Homo sapiens: one gene and its partners. The protein of the gene in region 1 purifies or fractionates together with the protein of each later gene. This does not show direct contact. Each region holds a gene or a part of one and is shown on either strand. Other genes may lie near its edges.

The links.
Region 2: the proteins of VRK1 (region 1) and RAI1 purify together in Homo sapiens (affinity purification with mass spectrometry; one large-scale study listed by BioGRID and IntAct). This does not show direct contact.
Region 3: the proteins of VRK1 (region 1) and DMP1 purify together in Homo sapiens (affinity purification with mass spectrometry, with the first as the bait; one large-scale study listed by BioGRID). This does not show direct contact.
Region 4: the proteins of VRK1 (region 1) and PHIP purify together in Homo sapiens (affinity purification with mass spectrometry; one large-scale study listed by BioGRID and IntAct). This does not show direct contact.
Region 5: the proteins of VRK1 (region 1) and HMGA2 purify together in Homo sapiens (affinity purification with mass spectrometry, with the first as the bait; one large-scale study listed by BioGRID). This does not show direct contact.
Region 6: the proteins of VRK1 (region 1) and TOP2B purify together in Homo sapiens (affinity purification with mass spectrometry; one large-scale study listed by BioGRID and IntAct). This does not show direct contact.
Region 7: the proteins of VRK1 (region 1) and GUSB purify together in Homo sapiens (affinity purification with mass spectrometry; one large-scale study listed by BioGRID and IntAct). This does not show direct contact.

Annotation. Positions count from the first base shown.
Region 1 is NC_000014.9:96,852,882-96,856,381, reverse strand, and holds part of VRK1 (serine/threonine-protein kinase VRK1), read right to left. Parts: coding exon 3,443-3,500; intron 3,309-3,442; coding exon 3,216-3,308; intron 1,159-3,215; coding exon 1,026-1,158; intron 253-1,025; coding exon 132-252; intron 1-131. UniProt on the Homo sapiens protein: Serine/threonine kinase involved in the regulation of key cellular processes including the cell cycle, nuclear condensation, transcription regulation, and DNA damage response.
Region 2 is NC_000017.11:17,799,958-17,803,457, reverse strand, and holds part of RAI1 (retinoic acid-induced protein 1), read right to left. Parts: intron 1-3,500. UniProt on the Homo sapiens protein: Transcriptional regulator of the circadian clock components: CLOCK, BMAL1, BMAL2, PER1/3, CRY1/2, NR1D1/2 and RORA/C. Positively regulates the transcriptional activity of CLOCK a core component of the circadian clock.
Region 3 is NC_000004.12:87,648,964-87,653,079, reverse strand, and holds the start of DMP1 (dentin matrix acidic phosphoprotein 1 isoform 1 precursor), read right to left. Parts: upstream 2,801-4,116; 5' UTR 2,696-2,800; intron 1-2,695. UniProt on the Homo sapiens protein: May have a dual function during osteoblast differentiation. In the nucleus of undifferentiated osteoblasts, unphosphorylated form acts as a transcriptional component for activation of osteoblast-specific genes like osteocalcin.
Region 4 is NC_000006.12:79,075,455-79,079,753, forward strand, and holds the start of PHIP (PH-interacting protein), read right to left. Parts: upstream 2,801-4,299; 5' UTR 2,615-2,800; coding exon 2,575-2,614; intron 2,460-2,574; coding exon 2,401-2,459; intron 2,276-2,400; coding exon 2,246-2,275; intron 2,054-2,245; coding exon 1,994-2,053; intron 1,813-1,993; exon of another isoform or gene 1-1,812.
Region 5 is NC_000012.12:65,823,325-65,827,282, forward strand, and holds the start of HMGA2 (high mobility group protein HMGI-C), read left to right. Parts: upstream 1-1,158; 5' UTR 1,159-1,946; coding exon 1,947-2,057; intron 2,058-3,518; exon of another isoform or gene 3,519-3,650; intron 3,651-3,958.
Region 6 is NC_000003.12:25,662,108-25,666,387, forward strand, and holds the start of TOP2B (DNA topoisomerase 2-beta), read right to left. Parts: upstream 2,801-4,280; 5' UTR 2,191-2,800; coding exon 2,122-2,190; intron 1-2,121. UniProt on the Homo sapiens protein: Key decatenating enzyme that alters DNA topology by binding to two double-stranded DNA molecules, generating a double-stranded break in one of the strands, passing the intact strand through the broken strand, and religating the broken strand.
Region 7 is NC_000007.14:65,962,699-65,965,213, forward strand, and holds part of GUSB (beta-glucuronidase isoform 1 precursor), read right to left. Parts: intron 1,761-2,515; coding exon 1,625-1,760; intron 1-1,624. UniProt on the Homo sapiens protein: Plays an important role in the degradation of dermatan and keratan sulfates.

The DNA of each region.
Region 1 (3,500 bases):
TTACTGTTTAACAAGTACTTTCTTATTTCTATATCAGTATCAGTTGAAACTATAGTTCCTATCAAGAAATTGTGACTAAAAACATTTGGCTTATCATGATTTTGCTAGAAATAACTTAAGTTTTCCTTTACCTAATTTTGGAATCTCTAACATATTTAGGATCTTTCAAATTATCCTCCCAAGGAAGATGGCCAGTAAGCCATTGGATCATGCAATAACCAAGTATTTCCAAATCACCACGTCTTGATGGGGCTACAAATGCAAGAGAAGAACATTAGGTAGACTGAAATAATTTTTAATGTATAATTTAAAGTATATATAAAGTAATAACATAAAACAAGTCAACTCCACAGTCTGTTTTTCATCATAAAATTTTGACTGCATTTCACCTAGGTACTGAACATTGGACAGTATAAAAGAAATAGCTTACCTCCCAATTAACTTCTAGCTAATAATCTACTTTAAAACCCAAATTGGTAAATTTCAGGGTTTCAAGCGGAGACTGTTAGTCTAGAAATAAAACTAGTTTTCCTTTGGAAAACTTGAAGATATTCTTAAAATTTTTATATGCTATTAAGAGGCCCAGAGAACTGGGTATTTGAGTTCTTCCACAGCTTTGAGCACAGAAGAAATGACTGCTGAAGAAATAAACTAACTTAACAGGTAACAAAATAAAAGTTAGCTGTTACAAAGTTGTAGATACATAAGAAACTTGAGAAAAAACACAAAAACAAACATTCCAATTAAACTAAATAAAACCAAAAAGAAATCCTCATGGCAGCTGAATGAACCACTACCACCTTCTTGGTTATCTTTGAAGGCTGCGAGGAAAAGGCAGGACAGAAGAACACAGATGGTCCTGGAATACAATTGTAGGAGTCTCACCTCTGCCTTCTTTCCTCATGCCACTGTGCCTTTTCAATTTTTATTTATCTATTCATTTACTTATGCATAATTAAGAACTATGTAGGAATCTGGGTGAAAACATTAGCAGTCTATTTCTCACTCCAGTACTACTGACATACCCACGCCATTGTGTGCATCGATGCTCGTGAATTCAATAGTGCCATCGTGACATCTTTTGGGGTCTTCTTTGTATTCTTTATGAACTCCTTCTGGGCAGTACCGATAAGCAAGGCCATAATCTACCAAGTACACCTATAAATTTCCAAGCACCAAGACAAACTAAAGTCAAAATCACTGCACATATAACCCTTTAAAGCACAGAAACAAAATACTGGCATCTGAAGGTGGGTTCACCTACAAGGTCATTCCATAACACTCCAAACAATTTAGATCCAAAATGCAAACAACAGCAAATACTTAATTCTGAAAGGCTTTTTATTTTTAATAAAAATGTTAAATGACCACATAGCTACAGTGTAATCACTTGACTTTATATACTTTTTTAAGATAAGTATATGTTATACTTGTAATTAATCTTGTCTCAATTTGAACGAAAATTATACATTTTATACTTTATCTTACAGACTCTAAAATTGAGCACAGAGCAAACCGTCAATACTTGTTGCAATACAACTGCTACTTTCCACACAGAAAAGCACACCCAGTAGAAGACTGCTAATGATGCTGACACATGATATGTTAGTTACCTTCTATTCCTCTGTTTCTTCACTTGTAAAATAATCAAATTTCAATTTACTTTATAAAAACATTTCATACATCATAATAATGATCTAAAGAACTGTTAGATCAGGCTTTTATCTATATCTAAATACTATATTCTAAAGCCAAGTCTTCATGATTAAAAGTAAATTTTAATATTATATACATACTTATTCGTGGGCATATACATGTGGGTCTGATTAGCATACAAAGCTAATAAACTTGGCTTTCTTCCATTCCATAGCCACACATTACATCTCTAATTCTGAGTAAATGTCACAAATGCATGCATCTGGGCACAAGAGGAAACTGAAGTAAAAATATGTGGCTAGATCTAGCACATACATCTAACACTGGAAAAATAATCCCATCCAAAGCATATGTCTGAAGGATAACAGAGCTGCAAAAATATTTCCATATAAACAAAGGCAGCATGTTTTAGTCACCTACAAAGTGATATAAGTTGTATTTTATTATACTGTACAAGTCCAGACTATTTCAATTAATGGAACCCTTATTGTTCAGGTTGTTAGCTGCGTTTTCTTTGTTCTTAGCCTAGAAATATCTAAAAAGAAATGGCTAGAAAGAGCAGAGATGAATTTGATGATTGCCTTTTTAAGATTTCTCCATTAGCACACTATCTTAATAGTATAGTAACTTTCTTCTTTTATACTTATATAGATTCCCTTCTATCCACCATAACTGACATTGGAGGAAGGGAAGCAAATACGAGACGACAGAAAAAGAAAAGAGAGCCAAAGGAAAAAGGAAAAACTAAGCAAAGGTAGTTAAAGGTACATTTGAGAGAAAGAATGAAGTACAGAGTACTGACAAATAATTACAATAATCAAAGTACCCAAACACATTTAAAATGTTTAAATCTTCCTTTTTATGTAAGATCAAGTAAGAAGTGAGAACATACATTAAGTATGAATGTCAACTAAACCTTACTTTCACCGAAATCACAGAAACAGTTATACAGGAAAATTGTATAGATCCCTCTACTTCAACTAAACTGACCTAAATAAAGGTATAATAACATTAGCTTTTCTCCTTTCCTTAGAAAGTAAAAATTACAAAGGGAATGTAATAAGCTAAAAAAAAAATGCACATTTGAATTCCAAACACTAAGGGTATACAAATTTAGACAGCTAAGATATTTCTGTAAACCAATTGATTTGAATAATCAACATGTTAAAGACCAAATTTTCCAAGTAATAGAACACTTACATTTGATGGATTTCTTGAACAAAGGAATAAAAAAAGTGACAAAGCAGACAGGCAAACATAATTCATTGGTGTACTATATAATTTTAAGCTTCCACCCCCAAATAGCTATTTGAAATTCATTTTGTATCACAAGCACTTCTTCTGAATATTATTTAGGGCAAAATAGCCAACTTGATAAAGTGCCAACAAATCACATCAAAAATGTAGAATGTTAACTAGATCAAAGTGTCAAGAAGAAATATTATTACCATATCTACTTCAAAAAGTAAAACTTCTACACAGGTTCAAAAGTTCAAAGCAACCATATTTATTTTCAAACAACACGCTTTAAATAGTAGAAATTAAAGTTATAAAACTACCTGGTCAGGATTCTTGTAGTTCAGAAGAAGATTTGAGGCCTTGATATCTCCATGCACATACTCATGCTCGTGAATATATTCCAGAATATCCAGCTATGAAAGTATCATACAGAATAAGTTAATGCAGTACCTAACACCAGCCAGCAGAGGACCAAGCTTCAACATAAACTAGCCTTTACTGTACTCAAAACAATTTTTTAAAAACAAGAAGAACATAGCTCACATACAATTCTTAAGCTTAGCTGCAAGACAGTTTTCCGAGAAAACCTTTTGGCATTTGCTTCA
Region 2 (3,500 bases), on another chromosome or scaffold:
GCCACTGCCTGTACTCCAGCCTGGGCAAGAGTGAGACCCTGCCTCAAAAAACAAACAAACAAACAAACAAAAAAAACACAAAAAACCTGTACAGGCTGGCTGGCCCCCTGTGGTCCCTGCCTCCCTTCTCCAAAATGGTGCTTGAAAATCTACCAGAAGGAGGTTCAGCACTGGGGTACACATGCCCACAAACATGGGTCATTTAGCACCCTCTGGGCTGGTACATTGGGTAGGGAGACCCCCTTGGGCCAGTGATGCCAGTTACTACCATGGCTGTGGCTACCAGCCAGCATCTGCTGCATGCTTCTGGTGTGCTGGGCGTGGTGTGTGTCCTTGCCCACTGGCTTGCTTTTTTTTTTTTTTTTTTTTTTTGAGACAGAATTTCACTCTGTCCCCCCGGGGCTGGAGTGCAATGGTGTGATCTCCGCTCACGGCAACCGCTGCCTCCTGTGTTCAAGTGATTCTCCTGCCTTAGCCTCCCGAGTAGCTGGGATTACAGGCATGTGCTGCCATGCCCAGCTAATTTTTGTATTTTTAGTAGAGACGGAGTTTCACTGTGTCGGCCAGGCTGGTCTCGAACTCCCGACCTCAGGTGATCTGCCTGCCTAGGCCTCCCAAAGTGCTGGGATTACAGGTGTAAGACATAGCGCCTGGCCTACTGGCTCTTTTTTCTTTTGCTTTTGAGATGGAGTCTTGCTCTGTTGCCCAGGCTAGAGAGCAGTGGCACAATCTTGGCTCACTGCAAGCTCCGCCTCCCGGGTTCACGCCATTCTCCTGCCTCAGCCTCCCCAGTAGCTGGGACTACAGGTGCCCGCCACCACGCCAGGCTAATTTTTTGTATTTTTAGTAGAGACGGGGTTTCTCCGTGTTAGCCAGGATGGTCTCGATCTCCTGACCTCGTGATCCGCCCACCTCAGCCTCCCAAAGTGCTGGGATTACAGGCGTGAGCCACCGCGCCTGGCCGCCTACTGGCTCTAACAGCCCTCTGTGGGTCCCTTTCATTAATCTCACTTTACAGATGGTGAAACTGAGGCTCCCATTCCAGGCAACAGTGAAGGCATTCAGCATGGTTTTCTACCCTTTCTGGCAGCAGGAGCACTTTGAAGCTAGGCTGGGACTGTTCTACCTAGGATGAGACCTGCACCCTCCAGGGGACCAGCTCTCAGACCTGTGAGAGGAGGCGGTGACGTGGTAATCCCTTGAGATGGCTGACTTCATGTAAATCTGATGCCGTCCTCCTCTAAGTCTCAAAACTGTCCTCTGCTGAGCTTGGGGGCTGCCCCACACCTGGACCAGCTGCTTGGAGTGGACGTGGCCAGGACAGGACAGTCACACCAAGAAGGCCCTTGGAAGAGTGAAGCAAACCTGAGGCCGGGGAGGGAGAAGTCACCAGGCGCCAGAGCCACAGTGCCACCGTGCTGGGGGCGGGGGGTGAGGTAGAGAAGGCAGCAGAGAGGGCGGCGGCCTCTGCCCAAGTGCGAAGCCAGTGAAACAAACGACAATAGCTTCCTATGTGCCAGGCATGGCTGGAAGCCTCATGCCCACAGCAACCTTATGATGGGATTACTGTTATTTTACCTGGGTTACCAATGAGAGCTGAGGCTGAGTAACCTGCCCGAGGGCTCCAGGCTGGTCTCTGACCCCTGCAGCTGCCTCCAGGCTGGAGTAGGGGCCCACAGGACCCCACATGCTCAGGGTGGGCGCACCATCCCAACCACAGCAGCTGAGAAATGTCAGAACACTCCCCTCCCCGCTGCCCATGCTGGGAGTGGGGCCTGGGGTTTATTCTAGAATTTCAGGTTTTCAGCTCAGGGCTGAGGCCTCCTTCCCGCCTAGTCTGGGATGGCCTCCTGGAGATCTGGAGTCCAGCGTCCCCAGTTCCTGACCCAAAAGGGATGACGAAACACAAGCCGGCTGCTGTCTGTGAGTGGCCCTTGGTGTCTGGATGTTTAAGCATATGGGGGTCCTCTGGCTGAAGGCTTCTCTCCACTTACTGCACGGAGGCCCCAACCACCCTCAGGCAGGCATATGAATAGCATTTTAGATGTGAAGAAACTAAGATGCAGAGAGAGTGAGGCCTCAGGCCCTTCTGACCCCAGCTACCCAAGAGGAGGGCAGGGGTGGCGGCATGTAAACCCTGCCACAGGTGGGGCCTCTGCAGACACCACCTAGCCCCCTAACAATGCCCGGAGCCCGCTATGGGTCCCTCTCACCCCAAGCATTCCATGGCCAGGCTCCATCTGGATAGGAGGTAGGGGTCTATGATGGCTTTGGGGGAAGGGCAGGCAGGGCTCAGAGATAGCAGGCGAGGGCAGTTCCCAGAAAAGGCCATCGAGGAAAAAAGGTATCCCTGAGAGCTGGCTCAGAGGTTCTGCCCTCCAGAGCGCAAAAGTGAGGTCAAGGTACCGAGGGGTGTGGCAGTGCTGGGGCCAGGGACACAGCTGCACCCCAAGCCCCTTCCACATGCCAGGCAGGTCCCACATGATCCACAGAACCCCACAATCCTGCTAACGGGGTTTGACATTGTGGAGTTCTCAGAGCATGCGTGACTCGCCTGGAGCTATGGAACCAGCCCTCGGCAGAGCTGGGATTTGAACCAGGGTCTCACTCCAAGGAGCATGGCGCCCCCAAGCCACTGAGGCAGGAAGGGGTGGTGAGCCAAAAGTGACCCTGGGAAGCCCCAGACTCTGCCCATTCTCCCAGGATGTCCCATCTGTCTGGCAGGGTGTTCCTGGTTCCGACCTTCCCGGGGCAGCCCTAGTTGCGCAGGCTGTCAGGCCATTTCTGGAGCATGGCACAGCAGACAGGCATGGGCTGGGCTGGCAAGTTCCAGCCCCCGCGTGGTGTAGGGAAGCTAGCGCCTCTCCAACACACACTGTCTCCTCAGTCCAGCAGGACCTTGTGTGTGCATGGGCGGTTAAGACACCCATGGGCCAGGGACAGGATGGGGTGGTCGGTGCTCGGGGCTGACCCCTCCTCCCTTCGGCCGGCCAGTGCTGGCTGCAGGGGATGTGGAGACGACCTGATCTCAGCCTGGTGGGACGTGAGTGTCGGGGAGCCCCTGGTGAGGCTGCGGGACCGAGGATGCCGTGGGGACAAGGCTTTCAGGAATGGGGCTGTGAAGCAGGGGAGGTGGCAGCCAGCTGGGGCTGGTGATCTGAGGGTTATTATTTTTTGATGACGGGAGAGACTTGAACCTGTTTCAAGGCGCTGGGAAGGAGCCAGTAATGAGAGAGAGAGAGAGAGAGAGAGAGAGAGAGAGAGAGAGAGAGAGAGACAGAGAGAGACAGAAAGCAGGAGAGAGGCAAAAAATCACTAACTGGGAAGGGGAGAGGGAAGAGGCCCAAGGCCACCATCTGCTGGGTAAGCAAGGCCCGCGGCACCAGGAACCTGCAGGAGTCCTGTCGGGGCCAGCCTTCCTCTGAGGTGGAGGGTGGAGTGAGGTGGGCAGGGCGTCTGGGCGTGGAGAAGGTCTCCAGCCATCCCCATGGGCAGTGGGA
Region 3 (4,116 bases), on another chromosome or scaffold:
TATCAACAGAGAAAAACATATGAAAATGCTTAACTATACCAAAATCAAGCTTAATTTAATAGATGTTACTTCTCTTTAGATACCACAATCAAAACTTTTTAAAAAATGTGTTAGGTTTATTTCTTCAGGAAAGCAAAATTTTCTCAAATATGATATTCTCAAAATAACCCTTTCAATGCTTTCAGTTTCACAGATCAAATGAAAGTTACCTCATCATTTTAATTTTCAAAGTGAAATTTGAATAGGGTTATAATTTCATGATTCTCTGAAAGCTAGCAAATGTTAGAGCCTTGACAGAAGGTCAATGACTATTGAATTCTCTTGTATTTTCTTTAGCTTCTCTAATCTAAATAATTAGAAAACTGGGGATGCCATTGTGCATTTATTCTAAACCAATGAACGTTGTGTTTTCTCACAAAGAAGTGCATGCCCCAAGTGCTCAAGTTTCTTAGGGATGGAAGATTCTAAAACACAAGAAAGATGCCCTAACTTGCTCAGGATTCTAGAAATACTCGTTAGCATCCTGACCTAAAGCAATAATTTCCCAGATGCAAGTCTAGTAAACTAAAATAAAAGACACTCTAGAGTTCTGAGAGAGCTGATGTTGCCACCCAAAAAATATAGTCCAACTGTAAGCATTAAAGAAAATCAGATCTTAAACCCCTTGTTAGGTTTGCATTTGGTATTTCTGATAAAAATAATTATAATTTTGTGAAGTGCATTTCCAAACAAGAGCTCCAAACTTTTATAAACATTTTGGCTACTATTCAAAAAAGAGTAGAAGCAGATAGGCAGTAGCCATATTCTGAATAATAAATGTGAACCACAGCTACAAGCCTGCAATTAAAAGTCCAGAACTTTGAGTTCTTCTTCAGTGATTGGTTAATGTTATTTCTACATTCTACATGCTGTCATTCTACAGTGAGATGACGTAACAAAAGGAAATAAACAACTTGAGTTCCATCCATTTGGAAGGCGGTGTATTAGAGAATTTCTGCCCCTGTGAATTGTTTTCATAGAGTTGAAAAGAGCCAAATGTTTAGAATGTGGAGAGGGAAACTAAAGTCAAGATTTCAGGTGTGTAGCCAAAACTTCTTTCGGCTCTTAAGTAAGGAAATTTGTTCTAGCATTTTCTCAAGGTTAAGATACATTTGTAAAATATATATCTTCTTTTATGTAAACCAAAATGAAGGAAATAGGCCAAAAGAAGAAAATAAAGGTTTGAAAAGTCATAGACTCTTTTTTCTTTTGGAAAACAATTCATCATATTAATTTGCTTTATTTGTCTTAGTATTGTTATCTTCAAGAACACAACTGAACAATACATTCATTCATTAGCAGTCAGTAAATATTTATGAACATGCAATGTGTTAGGCACTTTTCTAGCCCATATTCTCAAAACCAACAATTTAAGAAACTCTAATATTTTGGTAGCTTTCTCCATGTACAACCTGTAAATGTACATTAGCAGGAAACTTTAATAATAATAAACAATAATAATAAAATAAGTTGGTTTTATAATAATAAAATTAACCAGAATCCAACTAACTAGAACCTGCTAGAATTTGTTTTCTTATTACTCTTTGAAAATAGAATCAAACTTGGCCAGGATATGAACTCTACCAGGAATCCAGAGAAACAAACAAACCAAAAAAAAATCCAATTCTTCCTATTGTATGTGTCTTCAGGTCAATTACGATGAATCCAATATTATATGCTTTTAATCACAGGAATATACCTCTGAGGTGCCCCCAAAATTAAATATAGATTTGGAAGGCCTCTAAGCATCTGAGGCACATTGTTTTACATCACCATTTTCAGGTAGGTAAGTGGACTAATACCCTTTAGAAAATAGTTTGTTCGCATTTTTAAACAACAAAGTTAAAATAAGATAGTCAAGCCTCAGTTAAACAGAAAGTATGGTTAACCACAAGTTACTGCTCTTAAGGAAGACAAGTTGCTAAAACACATGGACTCTTCTAAACGTCACACAGATGAAGAAGTGCACTAAATACAGTAAATAAAAATACATATGGACATTTTAAAATATATGTTTTAAAATGCAATATTTTAAAATATAATTATATTCAACATTTATTGAATTCTAACTGTATTCAAGGCATCATGCTAACATGAATACAAAAAACATAATTATCACACCCTCAGTTATTTCAGTAGTTTAATCATCTTTTAGTTACTTATGCAGTTCATAATAAATGTTACTAGATGCTCTCTAGATGAATAACATTTTAATTTAAAAAAAATTCTTTTTAAAGTCCTGCCATTCAATAAGTTTAGCTTTTTTTTCACAATCTTGTAGGTTGCAAACATTCCCTTATTCATGAAACACACTGTAAAAGTTTTATACGTTTTGCTAATTAAAACTAAATTTCAAAATGACCTTCCATCTGCCTCCTGTTCTATAAACTATCCCTTTTAGAAGTGTCATGCAGAGATCTAATTAAAGCATTACCAAGAAAAACACCTGGCTGTATTGTCTTAACATGTCATTTTCATATCATTATTTACTGTGGCATAAACAACAGGCACAAAAATAGGAACTGTTTTTACCCAAAGCGCAGCTCTCCCATCTCTCTCTACATGGTATAATGCCTCAAACATGTATACATATTTAATATTTTCCAAACAACCAGCAAAAGTCATTTTAAAAAATTAAATGATGAAAATGACTTACCCTCCGTAGTTCACAAAGAATTTTTTCAAAAAGTCTCAAAAATCAGGTTGATGTTCTCAAAGAGGAAATCTATGCCCAATGAAGCCACTCTTGTGTTGATATTCTGGACACTTCTCTGATGGTGCAGGAATTTAAACTCTGCTGCAGCTCTTCATAGCCAATCAACCTCAGGCTGGGGGTGACTGACATCACAAGGTGTCACCGGGACCCCGGTACACCCACACTTCCTCCAGCTGGCAGAGGCACATTTTCCCTAAAAAGCTCTTGTGGTTCCCAAATGACTAGACTAGTTTCCATTAAATTGAAGATCTTCCCAAAACTTTATTTTGATTTCTAAATATATGTCATTCACATTCAGGCAGTCTTATGAACAATGACAATGTCTTCTACCCACCGACAGATCCCAGCAGACCCAAGGATGGGAAAGGCGGAGGCAGGGGTGGGTAGAAAGTTTCCTGTTAATGTACATTTCCAGGTTGTACATGGAGAAAGCTACTAAAATACTAGAGTTCCTTAAATTGTTGGTTTTGAGAATATGGGCTTTTATTTCTTCCTTTTTCCTCTTTTAACAACCTCTACTACTCACCTCCTTTTCCTCTCATCTCCCCACCCCCATATACACACAAAGTTCCCAAACTCCTACTAATCTAATAAAGCGTCCACTAAAGTACCCCCCTTAAGTAGCTATTGTGTTATTCAAGAAATTTAGATCTAACACTTAACACTTAATCATTCCCTGTTTGCCACATTTTAATGATTCTTTGAAATCAGAATTGGATTAAGGGGAATACTAGCTGGGTAGCATCCAAGGAAACTAATCTTGAAGGGACTCTGTGCCACCACTGAAAATGTAATGAAATGGATAAAATGATATTTACCAAAACATTTTCGAGGAAGCGTACTAAAAGTTGTAGGGAGCTGGAAATGGGTTTGGCAATTTCCCAGGAGCGTGTTCAAGTGACGGCAGGATGGCCACTGAACAAGAATTTAGAGAATATCAGCTGCTGGACCTTAATTTCCTTAAGAGTAGGGATGTTTGCTTGTCTACTGATCTATAATCAGTGCCTGGATACCTAGAACAGTTCTTAATAATCACTCAGTACTCTTTGAATGACTGAGTGGATTGGCTTGAAAATTAGCCAAACTATTAACTTGATTACAGTATCTGCATAACTCACTGTAACTTTTAAAAAAATGCTTTAATTGTTAAAAAAAAAATTGAGCTGATGCTCCTAACATGGATCTAGAAAATTAGAGTGCCCAATTTATTCAGGCAACTAATGTCAGATATATGGATTATCAACATATTTAGTGTGAACTATAATATGCGGGGGAGGGTGGTGCAGACAATGAGGAAAGAGATGTCTATTTTCATTTAGGGTTGATTAGAAAGCCAAAGTCCATATGGGGAAGCTATAAAT
Region 4 (4,299 bases), on another chromosome or scaffold:
ACTTCCATTCAAAATAGGTGAATTTTGAGCATAATACATAGATAGAAAGAATGCTTACTGTATCTTAAATCTGCGATGCAGACTAGGGATAGAAATTCACTTTACTAATAATTCCTCCCCCCACCCTCCCCCCAAAAATTAAATTAACTCAAAATCAAAATTGATAGCTCATTTTTACTGAAAAAAAAAACAAAAAAACAAAATGATATTCCTACGAGGATTAGCCATTACCATAATTTAGCCAGATAACATTAAGCTGCTTCATTTAAAAAATGTAACATTACCAAAAGATTAAGAAAATGCAGCATTCCTCAGTGACTTAAGGTTTGTGGGTTTTTAAGAGATGCACAGATGTAAAAGCAGATGCAAAGACGAGTTTTGTAAAACCTGCCCCATCTTAAAAATGGAGTATTATAATCTTTGCGATAATTTTTTCAAATATCAAGGAAGACATGTAAATTCACTGAAGACTTCTATCAAGTATTTGTAAACCTAAAAATTAATTTCAAATTAGTAAATCTTGGAGTTTACTTCCAGCTCCATTCACTTTGGCCAAGAATTGAATGAAAGTAACCCAAATCACTCCTTGAAAATTAACACACGTTCAGTGTGAAAATGAATACACTAATACACTGTTAAATCTCCATTAGATGTATTAAACCTCAGTACCCTTGCTTATTTCAACAGCCTTGAGCGGTTATCAACATCTTATATTAAACCACAAGAGATTTATACACAAAAGTTAGGAAATACACTACATACCAAAAAAAGCGCCATTATAATCATGTCCTGCTTTCACCTCACAAAAGACACTCATTCTAAGCTCGCTGAAACTTCCTAGTCATTAGAGAAGTTCTGATGAAGTAACATTAGTAATCATAACTATCTCAAAACAGTTACAAAAGCCTCATAAAATCAACACACTACATAAATTTCAAAGGCTTGGTGGGTCCGGTGCGACTGCTTTAACTGCCCCACACACATATTCACACAACGAACCTGTATCAGTTTAGGAGAAAGTGTTACAGAAAATATAGCTCCTTTAAAGTAACTTCCAATCACAATACTGAAGTGATAAATCCACTTCTGAAAAGCAATTTTTAAAGATTCCTAAAATACTCATTTTGACAACCCACAAAATTAAGGTTTTTAAGCTATTAAACAAAATATGTCCCAATATAAACACAACTTTCATAGGCCAAGTTCCATCCCACAGTAAATATGTGGACAAAAATCAAAACTCTTCAGTGTACTCCAATAATAATTTTTAATTAAACGAGAGGCATACCATAAGAATTAAAAAAAGCCTACTAAACTTCTGGTTTTAGGGAATTACAGGCTTTACACTTCTGCAAAGATGTGTTTTAGTAAATGCAAGACGAAGCACTGACCAACTATCATCACACATCAGAATCCTTCCAACAAAAAACCCAGGACTGAATTTAAGGAAAACAAAATAAACGACAGAGGGGGAAAAAATAATGTCTTGCCACGGTACCGCAGCGGCTGGATAGCCTGCTTGTGAAATGCTAATGCCACTTCGGAGCAGTTAGTCACCAGCTATTGTGTAGGGCAGGAGAAAGCCGAGCCGGCCGCGCGTGCAGAGCGAGCAAGCGAACGAGCGAGCGCGCTCTCCCTCTTCGCGCCGCTCCCGCCGCCGCCGACTCTCGCGCGCCCCCGCGCCCGCACGGACGCGCGCGCCGGCCCCTCCTCCTCCGGCCTTGCACTGCACAACACTCATGACGTATCTTTATTTCTAGCACATTAACAAAATATCACAAATAAATTGTCCGCAGCCCCTGCGGCCCCGAAGTACGAGTACCCCCGGCCACTGGCCCCCGCAGACCCCGCGCCGGCCTCCCAACCCTCCCCATGGCCTTTGGAGCTTTCACGTTCTAGGGCCAAGTTTTTGTCTCTGTAAAAAATTGCGGGAAATTCAATTTTTATTCGACTCAGGGAAAAGTTTCTTTGCTCTGCGACGTGAATGTCTCACCAGATTCTGGTAGGTCCTGGGATGCTCCTTCCCGGTCCAGTCGGTGCGCCGGGGCAGCAGCTGCGGGGAGAGGACACCCCGTGAGCCCGGCCCCCGGCCCCTACCCGCCCGCTCCCCTCCCCCGCCCGCCCCGCGCCCCGGCGGGGACCCCGAGCCCCGCGCCCCGCGCCCTGCCGGCGGCGGCAGCGGCGGCGCAGCGGCCCAGAGGCGGCCGCGCGGCGGCGGGACGCGCCGGGCCGCCGCCGCCCTTACCTCCTTCTCGGCCACCTCGCGGATCAGCACCTGCAACAACAAAGCGGGGAGAGCTGAGCCCCGCGCCCCGGGCCGCGGCCCCGCCGCCGCCGCCTCCCTCCCCCACGCCCGCGAGCGGCGAGCGCCGGCCCGGCCCGCGCCGCGCGCCGCCGTACCTGAGCCGCCTGCTGACAGGGTCCATCTTCCAGGAACCGGGCGATGAGGAAGTAGAGCTCTGCGCGGGAGAGAGGGACGGGGAGACACACAGGCTGAGCGGTCGGGCGGCGGGGGGCGGGGGACCGCGGGCGGAATCGCCCGGTGCCAGCGGCCCCGGCAGCCCCCCGACTTACCCGATCGCAGCTCCGAGAGGCCTTTCCTCTCACAAGACATGTTTATGGGTCACTTCAGGGCCGCCGACGGGACACCCCGCCGCCGAGGGGAAGCGGGGACGGTGCCGCCGCCTGCCCTATAGCTGTCAGTGTGTGTTCACGAGCCGAGCTTCGGCTCCACCATTCAAGCAACGGCGGCGGAGGCGGAGGAGGAGGAGGAGGAAACAACAACTCTCAGGCAGCGACTACGGCCGTGGCCGCCTCCGCCGCGGATCCCTCCGCCGCAGAAAGGAGTCCGCCGCCTTCGCGGCCCAGGGCTCGGCCCCGGCTCTGGCCCGCGCCCCCGCCCCCCGGCGCTAAAAAAGGAGTGCCTCCGACCCCTCGTCCCCAGCGCTCCGCACGCGGCACAGTGAGACCCCCACCCGCTCCTCCCCGCAGGGCGTGCGATTTATTTATTTATTTCCAGTCGGAGAAGATGTCGGAGCCCAAGCCGCCGGTTGGCTGGAAGGCGCTTTCTCTGTGGAGGCCGATAGTGGCAGGGAGGGGGCCGGGGACGGTTCCGCGGAGGGATCTGACGCACACGGAGCCGCAGCACAGGCTCTATTCAGCGGCGCTGGCTGGAGCTGAGATGGAAGTTAGTTTCTATGTAGCAGAAATATGAAACAAATGAAGCAAAACTGCCCAGAGAGGGGAAATGCCCCAAGGATGGGTCTCACTCACGCGCGTACACAGACACACACGCAGAGAGCACTCTCACGCTGGGCAAGCTCGGGATCGCGCTACCCTTCCCGAGTTGAATGATAGTGTTTGGTTTCTGTCTCTTGCCATGTGCATGTGTATAAATGCTGCGGATTGGCATCTGTGTAAGTCTTGTCCTGCGTTATTTCTGCAGCCTATGCAAGTGTTGTGTAATTTATTGGAGTGCTGTATATTGCAATAGAGGTTTGGGCTGCTTTTTGTTAAGCACTTGCGTTTTGCAAACCCGTTATTTGCTGAAGCCACCTCTGCATATTTCTTTTATTACTGCCATTGCCTTTGGCGTACGTTTTTTAAATGTTTTTTATTGTTAAACGGGCAAAGCGAACTCTTGATTTGTACTTCAGATACTCTTTTTCCTTATTACAAAAAGGCTAGTGATGGCTAATTAGGTATTTGGAATTAAAGAACCTTAAAGCTTTTTTAAGTGTTTACGAGAAGGGAGAATGTAAACCTGAGGGAAAGGAAAGGACGCTAATATTCATGTCTAACTGATCTGGAGGTAATTTAGTGACAGATCGATAACCTGCCTAAGGATATTGAAAGAGTATACTACAGTTTAGCCAAGGTGAATAGTGATTAAATAATTTAAATAATCTGTGTATCTTGCAGTTGACTTCGTCATGCTAATTAATGGCTTCTAATTTGAGATGTAAACCATTCCTGTTTACAGTTAATCACGGGAAGACTTCTTGAAAACTGACGAAAAGGAGAAAAAAAAATCTTTCGTAAATTAGTATGTAATTACCGATTTTATATGCTAAATCATACATCTGTGTTTTGCTGATGAGGATAAGGGCCTTGTTTTTAAAAAAACGAATATGGGTGAAATTAATGGAAACAATAGAAAAAGCCATTTGTTAGAAAACAAGGACACCAAATGATATTTATCTCCAGATGATTTAAGCACTTTCCAAAAAGACTTGAGAGTTCAATATTTTTTAAGGATTGCATTTTAAAGGGAATTTGGATAGTCGTTCTTTTGTTAAC
Region 5 (3,958 bases), on another chromosome or scaffold:
AGTTTTGTGTTATTCAAGGATGAAAAGAGGTACATTTAAAAATGTACTCCACCTTTTAAAAACGGACTGTGGCCATTATGGTGTTCACATAACTCAGAACAGCCCAGGCCATAAAATTAGGACTTGGCAGAAAGAGAGTTCTCAGGCAGAAGGTTAAATCGAGGTAAACTGAAGGGAGAGTTGGGCAGTGAGTGCAATTGTGGTGTTAGGAATCTACAAGGTGCCCTTTACCCTGGGAACATCGGATTCCCGGGGAGGGGGATGGGGAGGGAACTTCGGTTGCCTCTAGTCTTTCCTGGAGAAAAAAGTTCAATGAAGAAGCTGGGGCGCTCTGTGTGTGCACATTGTTTGCATGTGTCTGCGAATGTGCATGTCTATCTGCGTGCCTGTGTGTATGTGTGTGTGTGTAAATGCGGGTGTTTACCAGCGCATGAATGCCCCCGTGTCCACGTGTATCTGCGTGCATGTGCTTACACGCGTGTTCGTGTGTATCTGCATGCATGTCTCCGTGTATGTGCGCGCTCGCCCGCCCGCAGGCTCTGTGGTGAGGGCATTCCGAGGCGGAGTACGGCTGTCAGGGGACCTCTCCCACTCCACTGCAGTCCCTTCCCACTCACAGTGAACCGGTGCGCTGCCTGAGGTGCAGCCTAGACGCTTCCTGCAAAGTGTTGGCTCGGCACGGTAGAGGCGCAGGTAAAGGCCAAGCCCCGAAACGTGGCTCCGGGACAGTCACGTTCCCGCGCCTTCCCAGGACAACTGCCCAGGGGTGACCTCGAGAGGCGGGTGGAGCTAGGCCCACGGCGAGCCAGCCCGGGATCCCCGGCCTGTCCCTTTAACCCCGCCGCCGGGCGGGAGCACGTGAGCGGGGCTCCGGGTGGCACCCGGGCGCCGCCGCCGCCGAGGCAGTTGTATTTCGAACGCTGCCTCTGGCTAGCAGCCAGGCGCCTTGGCTCGGCGGTCCGCCTGGCCTCCCTCCTCCTCATACTTTTCTTCCTGCGCAACCCCCTCCCCTTTATCCGCCCACGATTAGAGGTGGGCACTCCCCCCACCACCACCCCCTCCCCAAGCGCAAGCGCGTGCACGCACACACACCACACACACTCACACTCACACACACTCACACACACTCATCCCACTTGAATCTTGGGGCAGGAACTCAGAAAACTTCCAGCCCGGGCAGCGCGCGCTTGGTGCAAGACTCAGGAGCTAGCAGCCCGTCCCCCTCCGACTCTCCGGTGCCGCCGCTGCCTGCTCCCGCCACCCTAGGAGGCGCGGTGCCACCCACTACTCTGTCCTCTGCCTGTGCTCCGTGCCCGACCCTATCCCGGCGGAGTCTCCCCATCCTCCTTTGCTTTCCGACTGCCCAAGGCACTTTCAATCTCAATCTCTTCTCTCTCTCTCTCTCTCTCTCTCTCTCTCTCTCTCTCTCTCTCTCTCTCTCTCTCGCAGGGTGGGGGGAAGAGGAGGAGGAATTCTTTCCCCGCCTAACATTTCAAGGGACACAATTCACTCCAAGTCTCTTCCCTTTCCAAGCCGCTTCCGAAGTGCTCCCGGTGCCCGCAACTCCTGATCCCAACCCGCGAGAGGAGCCTCTGCGACCTCAAAGCCTCTCTTCCTTCTCCCTCGCTTCCCTCCTCCTCTTGCTACCTCCACCTCCACCGCCACCTCCACCTCCGGCACCCACCCACCGCCGCCGCCGCCACCGGCAGCGCCTCCTCCTCTCCTCCTCCTCCTCCCCTCTTCTCTTTTTGGCAGCCGCTGGACGTCCGGTGTTGATGGTGGCAGCGGCGGCAGCCTAAGCAACAGCAGCCCTCGCAGCCCGCCAGCTCGCGCTCGCCCCGCCGGCGTCCCCAGCCCTATCACCTCATCTCCCGAAAGGTGCTGGGCAGCTCCGGGGCGGTCGAGGCGAAGCGGCTGCAGCGGCGGTAGCGGCGGCGGGAGGCAGGATGAGCGCACGCGGTGAGGGCGCGGGGCAGCCGTCCACTTCAGCCCAGGGACAACCTGCCGCCCCAGCGCCTCAGAAGAGAGGACGCGGCCGCCCCAGGAAGCAGCAGCAAGTCAGTACGAGGGCGCGGTGGGGGCACCAGCCCACCCCGTCCCCACTGCCGGGGCCCAGACACGCGCGGGGCGGCCGGAGTGCGGGAGCCCAGTCGCCGCGGCCGTCGCACACTGCCCGCCGGCCGGCCGGGGGGAGCGGCGCAGACCCCACGAGTGCGCCGCGCGGCCCCGGGGCGCCAGCAACCCTCCGGGCGGGGAGGTGGGGAGCCGCGGCGGGCGGCCCGGGGAAGGCGGGAGGTGGGGTCGGGCGAAGCGCGTCCTCGGACTTTCGCTATTGTGCACGGCCCCGAGTGGCGCGGTGTCGCCCAGTGACTGGAAGCGACCGGGATCCGACAAACCCGGGCTCGCAGGCGCTTTCCGAGTTGCTTTTGCAACTGCCCGGGAGGAAGGAGGTGCCGGGGACCCGGGCGCTTCGGCCGATCTGGGCTGAAGGGGCTAGAGTCTTGGGGGCCGGAGGCTCTTTCTCCCGCCTCCCGGGGCTGCTCGCGGGTCGGGGGCTGGCGCGCCGCAGCCGCCCCCTTGGCGCCCTCCTCCAAGCTCTCGGTGGCCCAAGACTCGCGCCCTCCCGACAAAGAACGCATGGAGACCCGGCTGCCTGGTCCTTTTTGGGCTCTTTAAATATGCGGCGGCCGCCGGAGGGAGCCCGGGGCAGGGGCTACGGGGAGCCTGGTTCCCCGCAGGACGGGGTTAACTCGCCCAGCTAAGGGCGCGTTGAAAGGAGTGTCCAAGAGAGTGCAGGGTAGCCAGGGTCGCTTCCTTGTCAGGGGCCCGGTCCCCCTTTTGCCCCTGGATCTCGCGCCTCAGAGCTGCAGCCATTAAATGCTCTTCTCCAAGGCCAGTGGCCGGGGGTTGAGTAGGGGACGATCGAGGGGCGCCCGGGACCCTGCGGAGTGGAGGGTTTTGTCTGCGGATGCAACCAATTAAGCGTGCAGCCGGCGCTTGCAGAGCTGCGCTCAGCGCGCAGGGCTGGGGGTTTTGTTCGCTGTAATTTCCAAGCCGCGGCGGGCAGAGTTGGAGCGGGATATGTCTATTGAGAACATTTAAACTCCACTTTCTCGGGCTTTAAAACTTGCTCTCTGCTTAGTCTTAAATCGCTTCCTTCATGGCAAACACGCCGATTAGAAAATAATCCTAGAGTCCCAAAGTTGTCCGAGAGCAAGGTGGGGAAACTGAACAATGTTTGCTTGCCAGTGCATTTTAGAAAAATTGAGAGTTGTACCTTTTTGAAATCATCAAAGGAAACAAGCCGATCTAGAGGCCCCTGAGTTTTCCCGCTCTGCCCAAGCGACACTTTACACCGCATTTGAATCCTGTTTTACACCTCCCAGGAAGTCTCTGCCCTCCCCCACTTGTTTCCCACCCGCCACCCAGTTCTAACTCACTAATTGCCCCCCCTCCAAAAAAAAAAAAAAAATCCAAAAGAAATTACAATGGGGTCTGGAGGTGATTGGATACTTTACCTTTGAGTTAAGGCAGAGTTCACAAAGAAAGAAAAATTTGTCTCCGATGTGTTTGCTCTCGATGTGCCCACTGGTGCTAGTGGTCCCACAGAAGCTTGCAGGGAACCTTCCCGAATTCTCTAAATGGGATGCGAATTTTCATTGAGGACGTTCATGGGTTTTAAGTTAATTAGTCTCACTTAATCACCGAATCTGAATGAAATGTGAATAGATGATTCACTGGATAAATATTTGGGATCTGGAATATTAATCATCGCATTCTCTTAACCACTTGAGTATTTACTACTTGGCATAGGAGCCATTTAAAGTTTTGCTAAACCAAGTGATTGCTTCCATTTCTCATTCCCAGACACTCCATTCCTCCTCGCTTTTACCTCCTTTTAGTTTTCTCCACTCCACCCCCATAAGAGTTTTCTCAAAAGAAAGTTTTGAAGAAAATA
Region 6 (4,280 bases), on another chromosome or scaffold:
CCAATAATAACAAACATCATTAAGCCCAGCACTGTGCTACACACGTTATCTCATTTCATTCTCAATGCAACCTTATTTGACAGATAAAAAAACAGGCTTAGAAAGGTTAGGTTCCTTGGGAAAAGTCCAACTAAATGTGTTGGAGAGACAGTATCTGAACCTACATCAGCCTGACGTCAAAGCCCATAACTACCTCACTATATTGCCTCCCATAAAATCAAACCAGTCTATATGATCAATGATGTATATTATGGACATAAAGATGCTCATATAACCTTAGAGTAAGCATCAACTCTTAAAGAAGACTTACAGGAGTGATTATCTTTTTAATAAACTTCTAATTCCATAAGATATACTCTATAAATAAAACACTAAGTGATCTTCACTTCTCTTTATTTTACTGCATTTCCCATATTTTCCATAATCTGCTTTATAATGAAAATTCCTTTAATCAATAAGTCAATTTCAGTTTCAAATGGATTTTTCTATCTTGAATGAGATGCTCCAAGTTTTGCTAAATTAGCAATGAGTTTCCTATGGAGCTTGAAAGAAATAAATTGTCATTTAATTATCTACAAAATTATATAACAGTTAATTAAAGTACTGCTATCAAATGTTAAAGCCAACAATCCACTACGGAGCAAAATGTTTACCATTATAGAACCAGAGGTCTTCAGAGGAAACACCGATCAGGCCTCAACACTTCCAAATAGTGAATGAGAACTTACAATACCATTTGGCTGTCTAAGTCAATTTTCCGATGTCTGATTTTAGTGACAGGGGTAAAAGCCATTAATTCTGAAAGTCATTATTTTGCATGTATGTGTCCATCTCCTCCTTCTTCCTCTCACATACCCTCTACTGCAAGTCCACATGGACCACTAACTTAGTATCTGACATTTTCTCTCCTGGCCCTAGTCCCTTCATACTTTCATTCTACATAATCGGAGTAATATACAACATTCAAAGAATTTCAACAATAAGAGCATGGCAAGTTATTTTGCAATGTACCCTGGCACGCAAACATAAGTGATTAAAATGTTTTGCTGCTGTCAGTAGCACCCTTTTTATAAGAAGCAGTTGTCAATATAGCACAAATTGCTATTCAACTCACCCAAACCTCACCCAAACAAAGAGAAAACGAACTAAGTAACAAAAATGCCTATATGAAAGCTCCCTTGAGGTATTTAAAACAGGGACGGGGGAACAGACCGTCAAAAGTCCAGAAAAATGTAACACTTTTTACTTTTCTCCGAAATACCTAGGTTTTCTGTATAGGAAATGACCCTGGTCTGAACTCTACGCTGAGCAAGTGAAATGCCGGCGAATTATCGATCTGTCGTGGGAATCCAGTCTCCCTTCCTCCTTCCGCTGCAGTTACTTCTACTTCCCAGCAAGAACTGAGCGTCGAAATCCTTTAACTTCAGGACTAAGCACTTCAGTCACCTCTCCAGGACATCCATTCAGCCCTCACCCCGTTACACCTGCGATGCTGACGTAGACAAGCACTTCTTTTAATAATCTCACCCTGACAGAGGGACGACCTACAGTATTAACTGCTGTGAAAGTCATCCCCAATGCGCTCTCAATTGAGCGCATTGAATGAGGCTTTCCAAATTGAAGTGCAAGTTGCTGTAGAAATCCCAATGCATTCTTCTTTGAGATTAAAGCCCCAGAAAGAGCTGCATTTAGAATACACACACACACACACCCCTTTTCCCAGGGTTTTCTTGAACTACATTTGGAGAAAATGCTGCCCCACACAGACACACTTGCATTATCGCCATCCCCACCATTTCAGGTTCGGCTGCCCCGGAAGAGTCTGGTTAAAAAGAAAAGAGAGGAAGCGGGGGCTGTATGTTACGTTCGCGGTTTTGTCCCCCCAAAGTTTCAAGTACACATTACGCTCTGGCAGTCAGGACTTCCAGAGACGTACAGAGAAAGAAAGAAAGAAAAGGCGCGGGGAGCGGGCTGGAGGATTCTGCAAGCACAGGCCCCTATGGAGCGCCCGTTCGGGGGACGGGATTTCCCTCCCTTTCCCCTCCCCCGCCCGTTCGGAATTCCGCCCCCGCCGCGGGCCCGGAACAATGCAGCCGCCCGTCCCGGGGACCAGCCACTTACCACCCAGGTCAGTGCCCCGTTGCCGCCGCCCACGCCGGCTCCCGCGCCGCAGCCACCCGACTTGGCCATGGCGAGTGCCTCCAGCTCACAGGCCCTGAGGCCGCAGCCGCCGCTCCCGCCTCCCTGCGGGCCGCTGGGCCCCGCCGCTCCGCACCCACCGCTCCACTCGCCGCACTCCTAGCCGCGCCGACCCCCGCGCCCCATCGCGAAGATCCGGAGCGGACGTCCAGCCGAGCCCGCTGAGGAGGCCGCGCCGCCGGCTGCCCTCAAACTCGAGGCGCGGCGTCCGCGTCGCCCGGGCCTAGCGCGGCGGCTGAGGAGAAAGCAGGGAGCGACCGGCGGCGGCCGAGCGGCGGCGTTGCCTTCTCGCCCGCCCGCGGGCGCCGCTGCAGGCCGGGCTGAAGCCCGGGCGTGCGAGCCGCGAGGGCGGCCGGGGAGCCCGAGGCGCTCGGACGTGGCGAGGACGCAGAGGTGCCTTGTCCTTCTCACACTCCGCGAAGGCCAGCCACTCGAGTCGCCAGAGTAGTCGTCCCGGTCGCCGCCGCTGCTTCAAAGGCAGCCTTAGCCTCGCTGCAGCCCCGATTTCCTCACACACACACACCGAGAGGGACAATAAACAGAGCCGCCGCCGCCGCCGCCACGGTCACCTCCCTCTTGTCCGGCATAACACCGCACACACACATTTGCACACCGGGGAGAGAGGGAGGGCGCGGCGGCCGCCCCCGCTGTCAGTCAGCGCCATGCTGTCCAATCCGGGCCTTGTCGCCACAGCCTCTCGGCCAATCCCAAAATTCCAAGCCCCCTGGAGGGGCGGGACCCGAGGGGGGAAACGTCATTGCGGGTAGCAACCGAAAGGAAGACTTGGGGTTTTTGTTTGTGTGTGTGTCTGTGGGTTTTCCATTTGAAGGGAGAGCAGGGGCTGCTTCAAGGGTCAATTGAGGGCGGCAAAGGGAAAGGGTCGAATTGGCCTCGGGTCGATTGTAATCCTCCAAGCGTGCTGTTTACTCTGAGACCTAACCGGGAATCCGAAGCGTTTGCCTGGGGCCTCTAAGGATGAGGATGGGGGCGGGGTGGGGATGGGGGTGGCAGGAAGAAGCCGGGGGCCGTCCCAAAGGGAAATTATTTTAAAAGAGCGGTTGTAAACCGCAGGCAAGACGTTGTAGACCACTGGTGCAAGGAGGCCCCGTGACCCGGCCTCCCCAAGGGCCTAAGTGGACGCTGCTGTCGAAAAAAATCATCTCAGACCTTCTCCATCTCCTTCTTCCGTCTCCTCCCCTCACCCCAAAAGAGCATATGGTCAGTTTCAAGAAAACTACATATGAAAAGCTTAAATGATAAGGGACACACAGAGAATGTTCTAGGGAAAGAATGCAGGGTGGGTTGAGTGTTCTATTTCTACTCTTTGTTGACCTTTCTTCTCTGAACAATGCAGAGATGTCACTGTCACTTTTCTCATCTGTCCAGAACTGTGCCCCCTGCCTCTAAGAGGGCATGCTTAATTTTTAAAACTGTTTTCAGTGGAATTTTCAAATGCACAGTAAGGAATAATTTCATTCACATTAAAGCTTTCTAAGAATGAAAATTACCAATACAGCAACATCACAGTCTTTGGCAGATGGAAGATGGCTTTACTTCTTCCTGTTTTTCAGTGTAATTCCACTCAAGTATTTATTGGGCGCACACTCTGCCACGCTGTGCCAGGCTCTGCGATGGGTTCAAAGTAAAAACAAGGCCCCTGATTTCAAACCATTTATAACCTGGCTTGTGAGACAGACTAAAAGGGAGCCAACGATCACCAAAATGAGTACTTGAAGGCATGAAGTGCCACCAAAGAGTTGTGATGAAAGCTTTTTATAAAGATGAAAACAGTATTACTGTTTTTTGAAGAGGTGTTTTTGTGAACTTCCAACTGTGCATTTCCTCTCAAGGGAAAACAAAAATGTCTCAGGTCACATCTTTAAACTGCATTCTGAGTCTAGAGGTGGAGAACTCTGAAACATGGAAATAATTTAAACATAGTTTTTTTAATTAGCTCTCTGATGGCCATGTAACTTTGCCATACTAGGGACTTCAGAACAGTGAAGCCTTTCTTTACCTTGAACTTGGGGTGCAAACTTTTCTGAACCTGACCAAGTATCCATAGCCTTGTTATTTAACTT
Region 7 (2,515 bases), on another chromosome or scaffold:
CCCGTCTCTACTAAAAATACAAAATTAGCCGGGTGTGGTGGCGCATGCCTGCAATCCCAGTTAATCGGGAGGCTGAGGCAGGAGAATTGCTTGAACCTGGGAGGTGGAGGTTGCAGTAGGCTGAGATAGCGCCACTGCACTCCAGCCTGGGAAACGAGCAAAACTCCGTCTCAAAAAAAAAAAAGAGTCTCACTCTATTGCTCAAGCTGGAGTACAGTGCTGTGATCTTAGCTCATTGCAACCTCCATCTCCCAGGTTCAACAGATTCTCATGCCTCAGTCTCCCAAGTGGCTGGCATTACAGGCATGCGCTACCACACCCGGCTAATTTTGTATTTTTAGTAGAGATGGGGTTTCTCCATGTTGGCCATGCTGGTCTCAAACTCCTGACCTCAGGTGATCTGTCCACCTTGGCCTCCCAAAGTGCTGGGATCACAGGCTTGAGCCACTGCGCCCAGCCTGCAGCTCATTTCTTACCGCATAAAGCCTCGCACCTCTCCACAAAACTGCCATCAGGGATGTCCCCAGAAACCATTTATCACAGGTGCCACGCAGAGGACAGCTTCCTGTTCTCCTTTTCCCTTTACCTCTTCCTTCTCACCTCATCTTGTTCATTCATTCATCCGTATTCCATTCTCACTCTTACGCTTTACCTTTCAAAGGCCTGTCTTTCCCTGTAAGTAATGTATTATAATTCCCACCATTACCACATGCTTCTCCAACCCACCAAACTGCTATCTTCAGTTTATGGTAAGTCCATAAACTAAGAAGAAATGGGACACATTCATTGCGAACTTGGCAGCCCCTCATCCATCCTCACAAGACACCGCAGATGTTATTCTCTTTGAAGACCAATCTTGTGTTTTAAAGACAAGTCTCACTCTGTTGTCCAGGCTCTTGTGCAGTGGTGCAATCATAGTTCACTGCAGCCTCCAACTCCTGTGCTCAGGTTATCCGCCTGCCTCAGCCTCCCAAGCAGCTGAGACTACAGGCACACACCACCACGCCTAGCTAATCTGTTTATTTTTTGTAGAGATGGGGTCTTGCTATGCTGAACAGGCTGGTCTTGAACTCCTGGCCTCAAGCGATCCTCCCACCCTGACCTCCCAAAGTGCTGGGATTACAGGCGTGAGCCACTACACCTGGCCTGAAGACTTGTAAATGCTGCCAAATTCAAGATGCGTTGAAACTCACCTGTATTTGATAAGCCTGCTTTTCGCAAGTAATATACAACAGACTGAAATACCTTAAGTTTCTCAGGCTTTGTACCCTTCTATGGAATAATGAGTGTATCCCAAAAGTAAATCCATGATGAGGTCCCGTTTTTCGTTCCTCCTTGGCTACAAAATAGACAAGGAAAAGGCAAGCCAGCCATTTCCGATTCACTATAGCTGACTCTCCTGTTTGCTTTTTGACCGTATTTGGGAGGCGGGGGCCTGATTGCTTTCCTACTTCCTAAACACAACTTACTTTTCCTAGAAAATTCTCAACGCAACCTACATGGATTAAACCAGCTTCCCCAACTTTGTTTCCAATATTCTTACAATTGAAATGGCCAGAATTGGAAAGGCAACCTGAAAAAATGAGGACGGGTACGTTATCCCATGAGCCAAACTGCCACTTACACTGTTCAGTCATGAAATCGGCAAAATTCCAAATGAGCTCTCCAACCACGTATTTTCTGCGTTTTTGATCCAGACCCAGATGGTACTGCTCTAGCAGACTTTTCTGGTACTCTTCAGTGAACATCAGAGGTGGATCCTAGGATTCAAGGCAAAGAGAATGTAAGAGTCAGAACTGGCAGAATTGTAAATGTTAGATAAAAATAAAGATCCACTTGATGGTGACCAAAATATCTGTCTTCACAGGGGGCTATAGTGACTGCAGGACTCACTGATGCTGGGGTAAAGACAGCCAGGGAATGATGTAACCCAGAATAAAAAAGGAGGTTTAAAAAAAAAAACAACCTTAATGAGCAGCTGCTTTATTTATAAACGTAATTTGACATTCGTTTCACATTACTTTTCCACCTCTATCTGCTGGTACAGTCTTAAGGCTAAACTACACTACAGGCAAAAATATGTCTTTCAGTCAGGTGCAGTGGCTCATGTCTGTCATCCCAGCAATTTGGGAGGCTGAGGTGGGAGGACTGCTTGAGCCCAGGTGTTCAAGACCAGCCTGGGCAACATAGCAAGACCCCATCTCTACAAAAAGTACAAAAATTAGCCAAGCCTAGTGGCACACATCTGTGGTCCCAGCTACTTGGGAGGCTGAGGTTGGAGGACTGCTTGAGCCCCAGAGATCAAAGCGACAGTGAGCTGTGTTCACACCACTGCACTCCAGTTTGGGTGACACAGTGAGACCCTGTCTCTAATAAATATATATATATATATAAAAATTAAATTAAATTAAACTCAACCAAACCAGGCTGGGCATGGTACCTCAGGTCTGTAATGCCAGCACTTTTGGAGGTCGAGACAGGAGGATCACTTCAGCCCAGGATTTCAAGACTAGTC